Regions from separate parts of the Homo sapiens genome. Here all the other regions are reported to be linked to region 3. The links are microRNA targets in miRTarBase. Many come from high-throughput screens and were not tested one by one. Region 3 holds a microRNA gene; each other region holds the end of a gene's coding sequence.

Evidence for each region. The annotated mature microRNA hsa-miR-3929 reads GAGGCUGAUGUGAGUAGACCACU and lies in region 3 at 1,134-1,156, opposite strand. An mRNA with a match to its seed (bases 2 to 7 or 8) in the 3' UTR can be bound and repressed. Matches are read on the target gene's strand: a 7mer-m8 pairs with bases 2 to 8, a 7mer-A1 pairs with bases 2 to 7 and ends in A, and an 8mer does both.
Region 1: miRTarBase lists ARL8B as a target of hsa-miR-3929. The part of its 3' UTR that is shown has no 7-base or 8-base seed match.
Region 2: the mRNA of MED7 is a reported target of hsa-miR-3929. The part of its 3' UTR that is shown has no 7-base or 8-base seed match.
Region 4: the mRNA of PPY is a reported target of hsa-miR-3929. The part of its 3' UTR that is shown has no 7-base or 8-base seed match.

The regions. Positions count from the first base shown.
Region 1 is chr3:5,178,500-5,182,561 of GRCh38, forward strand. It overlaps ARL8B (ARF like GTPase 8B), which reads left to right. Exons shown (of 7, transcript NM_018184.3): 7 at 165-2,412. The coding sequence ends at 214. Among named protein-coding and RNA genes, the nearest start is that of EDEM1, 7.2 kb to the right of the region's middle. RefSeq lists an enhancer at 3,594-3,643.
Region 2 is chr5:157,134,888-157,138,949 of GRCh38, reverse strand. It overlaps MED7 (mediator complex subunit 7), which reads left to right. Exons shown (of 2, transcript NM_004270.5): 2 at 1-1,526. The coding sequence ends at 220. Among named protein-coding and RNA genes, the nearest start is that of MED7, 5.9 kb to the left of the region's middle.
Region 3 is chr18:35,932,955-35,937,021 of GRCh38, forward strand. It overlaps MIR3929 (microRNA 3929), which reads right to left and starts at 1,188; the gene lies at 1,134-1,188.
Region 4 is chr17:43,937,080-43,941,141 of GRCh38, forward strand. It overlaps PPY (pancreatic polypeptide), which reads right to left. Exons shown (of 4, transcript NM_002722.5): 4 at 3,725-3,873. The coding sequence ends at 3,849. It overlaps LINC01976 (long intergenic non-protein coding RNA 1976), which reads left to right and starts at 1,182. Exons shown (of 2, transcript NR_136406.1): 1 at 1,182-1,318; 2 at 1,482-1,883. RefSeq lists an enhancer at 968-1,468.

The DNA of each region.
Region 1 (4,062 bases), not on the chromosome of region 3:
TATTCTCTTGAAGTTCGGGTAATGGAGTATGGTAATGCAGATGCAGAAAAGCAGCAGAGGTCAGGCATAGTGTGTGCCTTGAATTAGCTGCCTTTTAAATATTGTCTCTGTTTGATGTTTAGTTTTTTAACTTTAATGTCTTCACTTTTCCCCTCTATCTTTAGATATCACACTTCAGTGGCTTATTCAGCATTCAAAATCTAGAAGAAGCTGAAGCATCTCCTGAAGTCTTCCAGTCCTTCTTGGCTATAATCCTAGAATTATTGTCCGTTCCTCTGAAGTAATTCCCAGAATACGGTCCTTCCTAAACCCCAGAAATTGCCTTTTTCAGAGTTTATTTCTCATGTGCACTGCTGAAGATGAATATCCCTAATCCTTCATAAAGAATCAGCTAGAGTTGTCATGATAAAGTCAGCACACACAAAAAGGCTTCTTACACATACCTGTCTTAAACCATGTGTAGAGCTTTAAAAACAGAAAAAAAACCCCATATACTTATGACCATCTTAAATCAAGAAAATTGCATATTTCCATTCTGGTCTTTCTGGGCCAGATTTTTATATTGGTTTTCAGTAAATGTCTATCTATAATATTTCATTATAGAGTCCAGTAGCTTAATACTGACACTGACTTGATACAGCATGAAGTTTCTAGTGCCACACACAGTATTTAGAAAACCTTTAGGCGTGAATGACTCATGTGGGATATATGTAAACATAATGTTTATTTTATCTCACAAATGCATGTGAAATGTATAATTACATCTTAGGAATCCAAAATGGTCTGCAGAGAGTGAGCGGAGGCACCAGATCAATGTTGGTTCTTTGCACTGGTGAGATTCTGCCTGATGAATATTAAAGATATCCTGCTTTCTGAGAACTCTATCACCAGATGGCAGTTGGGATATGGGAGGAACTAAAGCATCCTGTTTTGTATCTGTCCAGATCATTATTTCTGTCTCTTGTTTTTTCTTCCTGGTTCAGGATACTTTTTTAAGGGGTTGAGAATTGAAGATTTTCCAAAAGCGTTCATGAATTTAGAGCATTCCACCCAATATAATAAAACCTGTTAAGAATGTCAGTCTTTGTTCAAACATCTGTTTGTTCTATCTCCAGTCATTAAATCAGTGCTGCTGCATGACACTCTTAACTCCTGACTTTTTATATCCAGTCATAAAGTTGACTTTCAGCACAAAAGATACTTATAAACAAATAAAAAATTTTTATTTTTCTCTCTTACTGATGTAAGCTTTGGCACTCTTTTGACTGGTGCCATTAGACATCTTGATTATTGTGACAACTCTAGACCTGCCTGCTTTATCTAATGTAATCATGCTCAATGTCTACAGGTTGTTTAATAATCAGTCACACAGAGAACTGAGGAACTGATGCTGTTTGTTTGCTTCTATGATACAGAGATGTCTAAAAACTTCAAATGGACATGTTTTGTAGTTTAGCGACTTCCGTATACATAAAGGGACATATTAATACTGGTTCATTTGTAAATTATTATTCATATAGACCACTGTAGTAGATAAAACTCTATGGTACACCTGCTTATGTGTTGCCTCACACTGTGTGTGATTTTGTTTCTTTTGTTAAGCAGCACTTATGTAGACTGCATTTCCAAATGTGTTGAGCACTCAGAGTGTAGTCAACAGTAAGTTCTTTTAATGAATATCAGTTTTAATTTATAGACTGCCATGGCCTTAAAAATATTCTGTACAATATACTGCACTGTGTTGCACAGACACTACTTGCTTTTCTCCATTCATATTTTTATGAGTAGAATCTGGGCTTTTAAATTTCTCTTCTTATTCTTTGAAGCATGTTGCATACTACCCTGGTGGGATGGATGGTTCTGTAAATGAAGGGATATTTAAACTTGCTACTGTTGTTCAACACCATTAATGGTCAGTGTGAACCATTACAAAGAATGTGGCAACTTGCTTGTGCCTAAAAGGAGGAATTGGAACTAGAATGTGTGACTCTGTGGGGACTGCATAGGTTTGTTAATTGACCTATAGCTAAACCTTAATGTGTTTGTGTGTCTATACATTGCTTTCCGCATTTCAAGACATCCAGACGCTATTACCAACATTTTCCTGTGCATTAACCTCTGCATGTGAAAACTTTTAACAGTTACTGAACTATGTAAATATGTGAATTTTTTTATTTAGGTGGATGCATTTTTTGTCTGTTTACTGCTCTTCTCAGCTTTATTCAATAAACTTGCATTTTAAGGGTTGTATTGGCAATTTTAACTTAAAATGTGCATCATGATGGAAGGTGCAGACTTTTTTGGAAGTTTCCGAGAGGAGGGTCTATAGACCATTTGTCAGAAATCAGATCAGCCCTCAAAGAATGGGGTCTGTGGGCTAGTTAAAATAGAAATAAACTTTTAAAATATCCACAGAATTGATATTGTGATTTTTTGGGGGCGGGGGAAATGCTACTACTTGTCAACGGTCACAATACACCAAATTTAGGACTTTAAGTGGCAAGTGCTAGTAAAACATTTTATGTCCCAGTTTTTACAAATCAAACCAAGACCCTGCTAAGCAAATGAAGTTGCAAGACATGCCTATTCACTGACTTCAGTTCAGAATGGAAATATTTTAAGTACCGAACATGCTGGTTTTCCCACAAAGGCACATTTTTAGCATAAAGCTTTTTGCTAGTTTGGTATCATCTGCCCATAAAATAAGTCAATACTTGAGCTATTGGAAAAATAATTGTGTATATTTTTATTTGTTTAGAAAGGTTCAGTTAGCATTTTCTCCATACGCATACTACAATTCTGTACAGCCAACCCTTAGTGGCCAGTTGGATGCATGATTTCGCGTTTATTTCCCTGGAACGTCACGTTGATGTGTTTTTGTCTTTTCACTGCATTACTGGAGCCATGTAGTCAAGCATCAAGTTTCATCCACTTCTCACCATTCTCCTACCAAGGGGGTGAGTGTGTGAGAGTTGAGGGTGAGGATGGGGGAACACGGAGGATATACATTTAGCTTAATTCTAAATGTGTATCTGCTTTTAAAAACTTCTAAACTTATAAAGTTGGTCTTTGATTCTGTCAAGTAAATTGGGTGTTTGAGGAACTAACTGCTTTGTCTGTTTGCTCCATGTAGGATTGAGTTACACTGATACCCTGTTGATTTGGTAATTCCAGCTGCTCCAAGGGTCTGGTGGGTTCAGAACTGGAATGGAAGCTTAAACATAATGTAGTGGGCATCATGCTGTAACATCCAGTTGGCCAAATGCTTTACTCTAAAAATGTGCCACAGTGGGGAAAGCACGATGTTTGATGTTTAAAATGTTTTTGTTATGTTACAGACTTTTAAGGTTATGCCCTCAACTGTGCATAGCAGTGAAGAGACTTGAAAAGGAAGACAGTAAAGCCTTACAGACTTCCCTTAAGTTTGCTGCTCTATAAGTATGCAGCCTGCTGCAGGTGTTTCCTGTTGGTTAGTAAATAACCTCCACACATTGGCTGTTTAAAATTCAGCTATTAATAAAAATGTGTACTTTTGTCATTGCTCCTCTTGGGTGTTCTTAGGGAAACCAAAGCAGGTCATTGTCATGGTAGACAGACTGCAATAGGACTCTCTTAAAAATCTAAGCCACAGCAGTAGTCATTTATTATTCCATTCTATTAACCAGCCCTCTCTTCAGTAAGATAATTCTATTTTGAAATCCCAAGGCATCTGGCATTTAGGTAATGCAGATTTCCCAATAATCAGGAGGGGGAAAAGATACTTTAGCTTCATTTTACTGGGGCTTACAGTAGGGATGTAGGAAAAGAGTTGTTAGCTTACGATGCTAATATAGCTTAATTCTGTGGAGAGTACTGGGTTGGCATTTGGGAGAATGGGTTCTTTCCTTGGCCATTAACTGACTGTGTGACTGGTGAGTTGCAGAACCCCCTCATGGCTCCTTAAGTTTTCCCATCTATAAAATGAACAGGAGAGGATTTCTAACCATAACTTCTGCCACTGACAGGCTGATTCTAGCAGCCTAGAAATTTGCTTGGTGGTTAAAAAGAGATACAAAAACACCG
Region 2 (4,062 bases), not on the chromosome of region 3:
TGAAATGATTCAGAATTGCTTGGCTTCTTTGCCTGATGATTTGCCTCATTCAGAAGCAGGAATGAGAGTAAAAACTGAACCAATGGATGCTGATGATAGCAACAATTGTACTGGACAGAATGAACATCAAAGAGAAAATTCAGGTCATAGGAGAGATCAGATTATAGAGAAAGATGCTGCCTTGTGTGTCCTAATTGATGAGATGAATGAAAGACCATGAAAGATGTTTCTTTTTCTTTTTTTCCTTTTGATAATAGCATCATATATTAGTTCATTTTCTTTTGGACAGTCTTAAGAGAAGTTTCACTAAAAATGTAAACAGCTTTAATCTTGACTCCAAATTTTTCAATTATGAGATGTCATAGGCAGTAATTTCGCTGTATAACAAGCATAGACAAATGAGTGTCCCTGCACTAAGAAGAATCACTTTAAAAAGCAAAGTGTTAGCTGCTGTTGTATGGGACATTCCTATGTTTTAGAGTTGCAGTAAAACTTTGATGATAACCTCAATAATAGCAAAGTTTTCGTCTTTGAAAAGGGGATTTAGCATTTGCTTTAAGAATGATAGATAAATGGATATTAAGCTCTCTACATGTAAAACTATGAAATCTTTAGACTTATTCCATTAAAAATTTTGCTTAAGCTCCAAAAAGTAGCATAACATGTTGATAGAGAGGAGCCCAGTAGAGTTATAAAATAGAAACTTCATTTTTTCCTCATGACTGCTTCTGTAAACCCACTAGCTCAGTCTTTTCTCCCTATCCTGAATGGACTCTTGCAGGGAAGTCCCATAAATTGTTGTTTTTTTTTCCAGTCACTCAGGTAATAAGTCCTTTGGTCACTTTAAGTTACAGACATTAATTTTAGTAATTAAGATGTCTGTGTCATTAGCTATACATTTTCTTTAAAGCTAAGCTCAGACTTGTTTAAGTCCACAATGGGAAAGGGGTTTGATGGCAGAGACTGCTAGGTGTCTACCAAAGATTCTTGCTCTTTGAAGATATGTTGTCAAGATGTGGCAATCCAGCCAGGGACATTTCCCTACTCCCAGCATCTCTGTGAGAACATATGACTAAGTCGTAGGCGGTGAAATGTGGGCATAGGAATCCAGGCTTGCCCCATAAACATTTCTTGCATGATCCTCCATTCTCTTCTCCCAGCTGCTGGTTGGACGGTCGTATCCAGGATAAGTTTGGAAGCCACCGAAGATGGCAAAGATTGTCAGTCTGGTTCTTTGAATGACCGTGAGGACTAAGTCTTCCTTTCAGTAACTCCACTCTGCCCCTAGCTAATTGGACTTTATATGAGCACTTTCTTCTCTTCTTCCCCCGACTGTCCATCTGCTCTTCCACCAAGGTGTTAGTGGAGAGTTGACCTTGTGTCTGAGGATCTCTGCCTGCCGTTTTCTTAATGTAGGCCCGTGGTTCTTAAAGTGTGTGGTCCTGGACCAGCAGCATTGGTATCACTTGGGGACTTACTAGAAATAAAAGTTTTAGTATAATCCGTAGGTTCAGAAAAATAAAAAATAAATGAGGGTTCTCTGGCTCCATCCCAGACCTTTTGAACCAGAAACTTCTGGGTGTAGGTCCCAGCAAGCTGTATTTTAAGAAGCCTATGTGATTATGATACATGCTCAAGATTAAGAAACATTGAGGCTGGGTGCAGTGGCCCACTCCTGTAATCCCAGCACTTCGGGAGGCTGAGGCTGGTGGATCACCTGAAGTCAGGAGTTCGAGACCAGCCTGACCAACATGGGGAAATCCCATCTCTACTAAAATACAAAATTAGCTGGGCTTGGTGGCGCATGCCTGTAATCCCAGCTACTCGGGAGGCTGAGGCAGGGAGAATCACTTGAATCTGGGAGGCAGAGGTTGTGGTGAGCTGAGATTGCACCATTGCACTCCAGCCTAGGCAACAAGAGCGAAACTCCATCTCAAAAACAAAAAAGAACCATTGAGAGGCAATGCCTTTCCCCAGATGTCTACTTTTTTATTTCTTCCTTAGCCCCTGGTTTCTAGCATAGGGATTTGCTCACTTAAACTTTCATTGGTCCTAGAGCTAGCAAAGTTCACATTAAAATGATTATAAGGGGCCTGGCGCAGTGGCTCATGCCTGTAATCCTAGCACTTTGGGAGGCTGAGGTGGGTGGATTGCTTGAGGTCAGGAGTTTGATACCAGCCTGGCCAACATGGCAAAACCCCGTCTGTACTAAAAATACAAAAATTAGCCGGGCATAGTGGCAGGCGCCTGTAATCCCAGCTACTCGGGAGGCTGAGGCACGAGAATTCCTTGAACCCAAGGGGTGGAGGTTGCAGTGAGCCGAGATCGTGCCACTGCACTCCAGCCTGGGTGACAGCAAAACTCTGTCTAAAATATATATATATATGTGTATGTATGTATATATGTATGACTATAGGTCAGTTCTCTATGAAATGTGCATGCTGTGCTTTCACAGATCCAGGGACTGTAAGTTATCCCTAGGTAGACACTTCTTTATCAGATAGGCAGTTGGTTGGCTAGTCTCAACTTTTGTTTTTTTCTGGTACGTAATGTGTTTGGTATAGACCTTTGGGCCTCAGAGACTCCAGAGGACATAGTTCAGGCTCTCAAGCTTAAATTGAAGTAGGGAGCATCACCTTGTGAGGGAGAAAGGTGGAAATTGCTTAGCACTTGAACAACTCTCCAAAGAAAATTCTCTTTCTTTGACTCTGAGAACCTTGAGGAAGGTGTTGGGTTGAGGTGCAAAACCAGTTTTTGGCCACTTTGAAAATCTTTGCATGTAAAAAACAGAATCACATAAGAGCCACAACACTACTTATATATGAACGTGTGTGTGTTGGGGGGAGGGGCGTTGAGGGATTAAAATGCCACTGGGGGGCCAGGCACAGTGGCTTATGCCTGTAATCCCAGCACTTTGGGAGGCTGAGGTAGGAGGATGGTTTTAGGTCAGGAGTTTGAGACTAGCCTAGGCAACATAGTGAGACCGTGTCTCTACAACAAATTAGAAAAAAAAATGCCATTGGGGAGGATCTGATCTTGCAGGTCTGTGACTAGGACCTGACATAAATTCCTAAAGTGTTCTGATATGAACTCTTGCTATTAGAGTGGAATGAAAAAAAAGCTCTAGTGGCCTTATATAAGGTCTTTTTAATCTTGTGTTAAAATATATCTCTGCACACCTACTTATAATGAATATTCTTGAAAGATTGATTCATTGAAGTGAAATATCTGGAAGGATCACCTTTTTAAGCAGCTTTTGAAATGACTAATGCCCAGGTCCCACACTGCGGAGATTCTGATTTCATTTTTTGGACTGGGGTACTAGCATTGGTTTTAAGAAATCAGAAGATGATTCTCTTGTGCAGTGGTTACAGAATGTTGCATTAATCAGTGCTCTGTTACTGCTGACAAAAACCCTACTTGAACTAATTTAAGCAAAAAGATGAATTTATATAAAGGATATGGGGTATGGGCTGGGTACGGTGGCTCACACTTATAATCCTAGTGCTTTGGGAGGTTGATGTGAGAGGATCACTTGAGCTCAGGAATTTGAGACCAATGGGGGCAACATAGTGAGACCTTCTCTCTCTTACAATTTAATTAAAAAAAGAAAGGATATGGGATATGTTGATTGAAGGATAAGTTGAATATATAAACCATGAGAAGGTCAGAAAGTGGATGAAGTTTTAAGTTAGTAGCCCTGGAGACCATCTTTCCTGTTAGCTTCATTCTCTTTACAGATGAACTTCTTTAATGATGTAGGTGGAGAACATGGCAGCTGACAGTTCCTAAGGGTTAAGTATTTCTATGTTTACCACTGTCTGGGAGTTCCCTCTCAAATGCAAACTTAAAAAAAATGAGGGGAGGTTAATTAACGAGCTAGACATGAGGAATTAGGGGTTGTATACTTGATTGCAACTGGGCAAATCAACTGGGACTTGGATCCCATAAGAATTTCACAGTCCCCGCTATGTCTATTTATGGAAGAGTCAGTCTGTCTCTCAGAGGAAGGAAGCGGTGCTGAGCTAACGATAACGAGAGATCTACTACAAATCAGGCACA
Region 3 (4,067 bases):
CTCCCTTTGTGTATAAATGACATCATTGTTTGCAAAGAGAATCCTGAGGAATTTATGTAAAAATAGCAAGGTCACAGAATACAAGATCAATCTGAAAAAATCAATTATATTTCGATTTACTACCAGCAAAAAAAAAGTTTAAAAACCAATTTTATTTATAATGATATCTAGAACATTAAATACTTAGAAATAAGGTTAACAAAAGGTATTTAATAACTCTATGCAGAAAACTATGAATTTAGAAGACCTAAATACATGGAGAGGCATTTCATGTTCATAAGTTGAAAAACCCAATGCTTTTATAATATACAGTCTCCTCAGATTGATCTATAGATTCAATGCAATCTGACTGATAATTAGGTCAAGTTTTCAGAGAAACTGACATATTGATTCTGACATTTATATGGAAATACTAAGGTCCTAGGATCTCTAAATTAATACTGACAAGACAGAATATGAGGACTTCCACAACCTGAGTTTGAGGCTCCAGTAGCCAAGCTAATGTACACAAAGCAAGTTTATGCAAATACATGAATAAAACACAACAGGCAGCCTAGACCTAGACTCACACCTATAAGGTTACTTAATGACTGACAAAGCCACCGAAGCTCCAATGGGAAAAGTAAGCGCTTTTCTAGAAATGATGCTGGAAAAATAGATATCCATATGGGGAAGAAAATGAATCTCAATTCCTATCTCAACTCATGCACAAAATTAATTCAATATGGATGATAGACCTAAACATAATACAGCTAAAATTATAGTAGTCCCCCTTTAACCACAGTTTTGCTTTCCATGGTTTCAGTTACCCTCAGCCAACCAAAGGGACATGTGGCTCATCATCCACTCACATCCAAAAAACTAAAAGAGAAATTTTAGAAATAAATAATTCATCCCTTTTTAAAAAAATTTTTTTGAGACAGAATCTCACTCTGTCACCCAGGCTGGAGTGCAATGGCGCAGTCTTGGCTCACTGCAGCCTTGGTCTCTCAGGCTCAAGCAATCCTCCAACCTCAGCCCCCTGAGTATCTGGGACTATAGACATGCACCACCACGCCTGGTTAATTTTTGTATTTTTTGTAAAGATAGGAGTTCGCCATGTTGCCCAGGCTGGTCTTGAACTCCCGGGCTCAAGTGGTCTACTCACATCAGCCTCCCAAAGTGCTGGGATTACTGGTGTGAGCCACTGCACCTGGCCAACTCATACGTTTTAAATTGTGTGCTGTTCTGAGTAGCATGATGAAATCTCAGGCCATCTGTCCCGTCCCTCCTAGGATGTGAATCATCCCTTTGTCTCGTGGATCTACACTGTAGATGCTACCTGCCTATGGGTCATTTAGTAGCCATCTGGGTTATCAGATCAACTGCCGTGACATCACAGTGCTGATGTTCAAGTAACCCTTATTTTAGTTCGTAATGGCCCCAGTGTGCAAGAATAGTGGTGCTGGCATATCATTATAATTGTCTGTTTTATTATAATTTGCTGTAATCTCTTCCTGTGCCTAATTTATAAATTAAACTTTATAATAATATAATATTATATATAATATAATATAATTTATAAATTAAACTTTATAATAATACATATAGGAAAACAACACAGTATATATACAGTTCTTTAGTATCCATGGTTTCAGGTATCCACTGGGGGGTCTTGGAATATGTCCCCAGCAGATAAGCAGGGTATACTATATAGAACTGTCAGGAGAAAAATATTTGAAACCTGAGAATAGGCAAAGATTTCATAGGTCACAATTATAATGATATGCCAGCATCACTTGTCCATGACAAGGTGCTTTACAGAGGCCATTGTCTCCTTTTAGCTAGGCAGTGAAAAGCACATTACAAGTAAAGAAAACAGCAGTTTTCTTAGACTGTTTACTTTGCAATAAAGGAATACCTGAAACTGGGTAATTTATAAAGAACAGGGGTTTATTTGGCTCATGCTTCTGCAGCCTATACAGGAAGCATAGGGCCTCAGAAGCTTCCAATCATGGCAGCAGGTGAAGGGGAGCCAGTATATCACGTAGTGAGAGAGGGAGCAAGAGAGAGAAGGAAGTCTCAGGCTCTTTTAAATAACCAGATCTTGGGCGAATTGGTAGAGCAAGAACTCCCTCATTACTGCAAGGATGGCACCAGGCCACTCAAGAGGGATCCACCCCTGTGATGCAAACACCTCCCACTAGGCCCACCTCCAACATTGGGGTTGCCATTCCAACGTGAGATTTGTAGGGCACAAGTATCCAAACTATATCAATGTCCTCTGAGTGTGTGTGTGTGCACGCGTGAACTCATGGGGTTTCTTATTCTCATAAATTCTGGCAGTCCTCTATTAATTACTTACTTCAGACACAAATTATAACCAGATATGGGACAATATAGTTACTAGGGAAAAAAGTTTACTTTCTAAAAAGAATTGGCATATTCTTTGGTTAATTAAGAGGAGAAAGTATCCAGAACCCTTTTCCAGTTCTCTTTGCAGAAGCGTATAATTGCTTTAAGGGTCTTTCTGGCGAAAAGTGATTAGAGGATACATTCCGCCAAGCACCAGGCTGCTCCCTCGGCATGTCCCCCACTTCTGCTGATGCACTAACGTGTCTCAAATCAGTTGCCAATTGGCAGGTGAATCCTATAAAACTGCAAACCTCTGGTGGAGAAACATTATATAAAAGGAATGTAATTGCAGGAAGCTTTCCACCTGCCCCATTCTAGAGGCATCGCAAAGCAGATTTTGTCTAAAGGCTTACCAGAAAGTGAGAGGGCTCCAAAAGGACTTAGAAGGCCCATCAAGCACAACCTGGCATTGTTCATCCCTAATAATTATATGTGCAGAGTTTTATAGTAGCTCTTCTCCTAGTGGTTCTTTTCATCAGCCTTGTCAATGGAGTGAGAATAAACCTCCCTTCCTGTCTGCCACCCCACCCCACCCCCACTGTGAAGCACCTGGGTTTTGTGTGGGGTTGACTCCCCCGTGCATCCCAGCATCAGCCCGGGCCTGACCAGTCTAGCCCAATCAGGGCATCCCCCACTCCCCTTGCTGTGGTATTTTGTTCAGGGATGAACTCCTGCAGAGAGAGTATGTCTTCATCAGAGACAACTGGCAGGCCTGCCCTGCCGAGGAAAGCCAGCCTGAAGACAAAGCCCACACAGGGCAAGAGAAACTAAGAGAAGTTAAGACAGAACCAGAACCCTGATCAAACCACACCTGGAGCCCACCAAGCATTTGTGTCGCAAAAACTTAGTGAATCCCATCTAATGTTCAAACCTGTGCATTGGATTAGGTTTTTAGTACCCTGCACCCAAAACCTCCTCACTAAAATACTACATATCCTCTGAAATATTAAACAAAAGAGAATGGAAACTACCAACTACTCATGTAATGAGTTTTAGAAATCCTGGCCTTGAAAGATGTTGTGTTCAGGAACGACTATATAACCAACATAGGTTGTATATTTTCATGGGGCAATGACACCTCTAATAATTCACGCATCATTTTCTACTCACGCACTGCTTACTTCTATAAGGATTTCACATGGCTTACAACAAAATACCTATATATTAGGATAATAAAATAAGAGTTAATTATCCAGGGGAAAAGATGGATATATCAGAAAACATCAGTGAAGTATAACTCTTAGGTTGGAACATACAATTTAGCTCCGAGCATTCTGTCAGCCAAGGTTAAAATTATTACAGGTTGAGTATCCCTACTCTGGAAAGCTGAAATCTGAAATGCTCTAAAATCCAAAACTTTTTAAGTACCAACATGATGCTCAAAAGAGACGCTCATTGGAGCATTTCCAATTTTAGATTTTTTGACTTAGGGATGCTGAACAACTAAATGTAATGCAAATATTCCAAAATCTGAAAAATATTGAAATCTGCAACACTTCTGGTTTCAAGCATTTCAGATAAGGGATACTCAACTCAACCTGTATCTTACTATCTGAAAAAGAAAAATATCTATGTTTGCTGGGAGGTATGACGCTTTTTCCTAGCAGTAGTAAGTAAGCTCTAGAGCAGCTGTAGTCAGTTTGGGAAGTTTAGGCCCTTGAATGCTGACATTA
Region 4 (4,062 bases), not on the chromosome of region 3:
GTGAGCTATGATCCCGACACTACATTCCAGCCTGGAAGGCAAAAGAAGGCCTTGCCTTAAAACAATAAAATAAAATAAAAAGAAAGAAAAGAAAAAATAGGGCAAAAATAGAGCAAGAAAAAGAGCAAGATGAGGGGTTTGGTTGCAATATTATTTTATTTATTTATTTTTTTAAATCGTAGAGACGGGGCTCTCTGTCTTTTGCCCAAGCTAGTCTTGAACTCATGGGCTCAAGCAGTCCTCCCACCTCGGCCTCCCAAAGTGCTGGGATTACAGGCGTGAGCCACCGCGCCCGGCCAGGTTGCAATTATAAATAGGGGTGTCAGGGTAGGATCCATTTAAAAGGTGGATTTTGAGCTAATGCTTACAAGGGGAGACAGAGCTGGCCATGAGGATGTCTGGAGGAAGAGTCTTCCAGGCAGAGAACAGAGTGACCGTCATTTTGCGGGAACAGCAGGGAGAAAGGAGGGGGATAAGCAAGGAGTTTGCGGGAGAGAGGGCAGTGAGGTTAGGGAGCTGACCAATGGCTTTATGCCGTCCTCATGCGTCCACCTTAGGGTGTGTCTCCTCGTTCGTTTTTTTTTTTTTTTTTTTCTTTTTCTTTTTTTTTTTTTTCTTTTTTTGAGACGAAGTCTGGCTCTGTTGGGCAGGGTGGAGTACAGTGGCGCAATCTCGGCTCACTAAAACCTCCACCTCCCGGGTTCCAGCAATTATCCTGCCTCAGCCCCCAGAGTAGCTGGGATTACAGGCGCCCACCACCACGCCCGGCTAATTTTTGTATTTTTAGTAGAGACGGGGTTTCGCCATGTTGGCCAGGCTGATCTTGAACGCCTGACCTCAGGTTATCCGCCCGCCTCGGCTTCCCAAAGTGCTGGGATTACAGGCGTGAGCCACCGCGCCTCGATGCTCTGCCTGCATCACCGGGCATGTCCAGGTGTGTACCATTCCTCCGAGCACCAGGATGTCCCTTAAGGCGTCCGTGCTCTGGTGTGTGTCCCAGAAATAGACACGACCCTCGGTCTGAGCGCCCCTGCACCCCAGCCTGCCCACCGCGCGGAACACCTGCAAGCTCCGGTCCGGGTGCCGCGCTGACCACAGCCCCGGCATCACGTGACCTCCCGCGGCTCTGTCTGCCCCGCCCCCTCCAGACGCCTGCTCTGCGCTGCGCATTCGCTCTGGCCATAGCGGGCCTCGTGTCGCTGCTGATGCAGCCCGAGGGCGCCCTCGGCGAGGAGCTGCAAGTGCCGCAGCCCAGGGCCGCCAGTTGGCTGAACTTAGGCTCCATCAAGAAGTACTTGGGGAAGCTCTTCAACAGCAGGTGGGCCGGCGGAGGGTGTGAGGAAGGGAGGGAGGGAGGGAGGAAAGCGGGGGGTGGGGGGGGCGCGGGGGGGGGACACGGACGCCACCAGGCACCCCCACGCACATCGCGGCCTGAGCTGGGCTCGGGGAGCGGCCTCATGACTGCAAAGACTTGTTCCCAGCCCGAAGAAATCTAAAAACCACAAGAAAACTGCGAACGCCACGGACACCTCCCCATCAAAAGCCACGAAACCCCCACCATGGACCACCACGAACCCCCAGTGGCTGAACACCTCGGAACCCCGACCACCGACCTCCTCCCGGGGCCCCAGGTAGGACAGCCTGGATGCTGGGCACCGAGCCAGGGGCCTCGGGGCTGGGGGCAGCTTGGGTGCTAGCGAGAGGAAGTTCCTGGGGGCGGGCATGCGGGGAGACACAGCACCCCTGTGGGGGGGGCTTCTTTCTCCAGGCTGGGCCTTGGCCTCCAGACGCCTCTCTGCCCACCAACCCCTTTGTATTGAGAGGGGCCTCGACCCCTCCTCATCCCCTCAGTGAAAACAATAAAGACAAATTTTTGTTGCTTCAGTGACTTCTGTGGGCCTGCGGGCAGGGAGGGACCAGTCCATGGAACGGGAAGTGGGACCCTGTAGTTTCTGCTGTGAGAGAAAAAGACCTCAGCTGTTGGGGGTCCTCCCCTGCCTCCCCTGGCAACCCATCCACCTTCCCCCACTCCACCCACACATGGCCTTGTGGGTCTGGCCCTCCACCCCGTGGTAGAGACACAGATACGGGTCCTGGAGAAGACACTTATTGCCCCTGTAGTCCTGCACAGACAGCACCAGTGTGGGGGGCTCTAACCCAGAGGGAGAGCAGAGGTGAGAGAAGAAACCTCAAAGAAGGGGCTTCAGCTAGACACACCCCAACTCCCACCTGGCTCAAGTTTCTACCAAACAGCCCAGACTCCTCTCCCCATTCACCGCGCATCCCCTTAAGCTGCCAGAGAAAATGCTGGGACTTCAGGCTCCCTCTCCCAGACTCAAACCGTTCTTTTGCGAAACCATCTCTCTATCCAGACATCTTTGGATTTAAGAATCAACCTGAGGCTGGGCACAGTGGCTCACACCTGTAATCCCAGCATTTTGGGAGGCCGAGGTGAGCAGATCGCTGGAGCCCAGGAGTTTAAGACCATGCTGGGCAACATAGCAAGACCCTGTCTCTAAAAAATAAAAAAATTTGCTGGGTGTGGTGGCATGTGCCTGTAGTTCCAGCTGTTTGGGAGGCTGAGGCAGGAGGATCGCTTGAGCCCAGGAGGTCAAAGCTATGGTGAGCTGTGATCATGCCACTGTACTCCAGCCTGGGTGACAGAGCAAGATCCTGTCTCCAAAAACAAACAAAAAATCAATCTGAGCCAAGCAGCTGCATCCTCTAGAAGCTCTTTGCCTTTTAGGACCTGTTTCTACTTCCAGGTCATTTGCACACACCAGATGGAGTAGGACTTGAGGGGAAACACAATTGTGTGTCATTTCCATTTCTGTGCAAGGTGCTGAGCCCAGGAAAGTGGACCCCTCATCCTCCAAACCCATAACCCCATCCCTTGAGACCAAGCATGTGGGGGAGGCAGGAGAAGCCTTTCTAGGAACCAGAAACATTCTAGTTCCCTCACTTCTCCCCTTTACACATGCGCGTACACACGCATGCACACGCGCACTGTCCCCACCTATTCAGGGTGCCTGAGAAGGGCCAGGAAAAGATGGGTTCTCTGGGAATCTGGGAAGTCCTCCCTGGGGCAGGATCCAGGTCCTTGTCCTCCCAGGGCTGGAGTGTACAATCTACAGATTCAACTCATGGTGGCTGGAACTCTCAGCTAATCTAGCCTCCTCCCCTTCCACAGCAGCTTGAATACCTCCTGTGCCCAGGACTTCACTACCTCTCAGGGCAGCCCATTCTCTCCAAATTTCTGGACGGCAGCTCAGGCCCCTGGATGCAGCCATGACTGCCATAGCACCAGAATCGTTCTTCCAGGCTGGGCTGTGCCCCTGCCCCCATGCCAAGGGTGCTTTCGTATAAATTTTGGTGCTTCTGCTGCCTAGGCTGCAGTAAGGCACTGGTGAGGGGTGCACTTGGGGAAGGGTTGTCATCAGGCTGTGTCGGGAAGGTCTATGGGTACTGAACTGGGAAGATTCAAGACTGCCACTTCACAGACTTGCTGAAGGACCATCTGCTCAGAGGAGTCCCTGCCTTCCTCTGGCCACCACTTTTCCCTCTGCGAAGGGGAGAGGATGAGTTGAGTGACTCTGATGACCCCCGCCAACGTTCTGGATGATCCCCTTTTCCTCTGCCCTGCCCTGCCCTCCCCTTTCTCTCCCATGCATTTGGCACTTCCTGCTGCCCCCACCAGGGGTCCACAGAGACACAGGACAGGCTGTGGCTTTGACTTGCTTTATTGAGCCTGTGTGGGAGCAGGGAGCAAGCTTTGGCCAGAGCCAAGGGTGCAGAGGGGAGAGCTGGGCTGGCGCTGCTCATGGAGTCGTAGGAGACAGAAGGTGGCATTATAAGTCCAGCGGGCTGAGCTCCCTGTGAGGACAGGGCAGAACATGGCAGTGTAGGGGGTAGGCCTCGTGCCCTCAGGAGGCCTCAGGCTGGCCCTGGGCTCCTGTTCTCCCTCTTCCACCCCCCACTACACCTTTCCAAGCCCTGATTCAGTCCCACCACCCCCATTTCAGCTCCAGGGAGCTGGACAGACAGGGCAGGGAGTCAAACTCA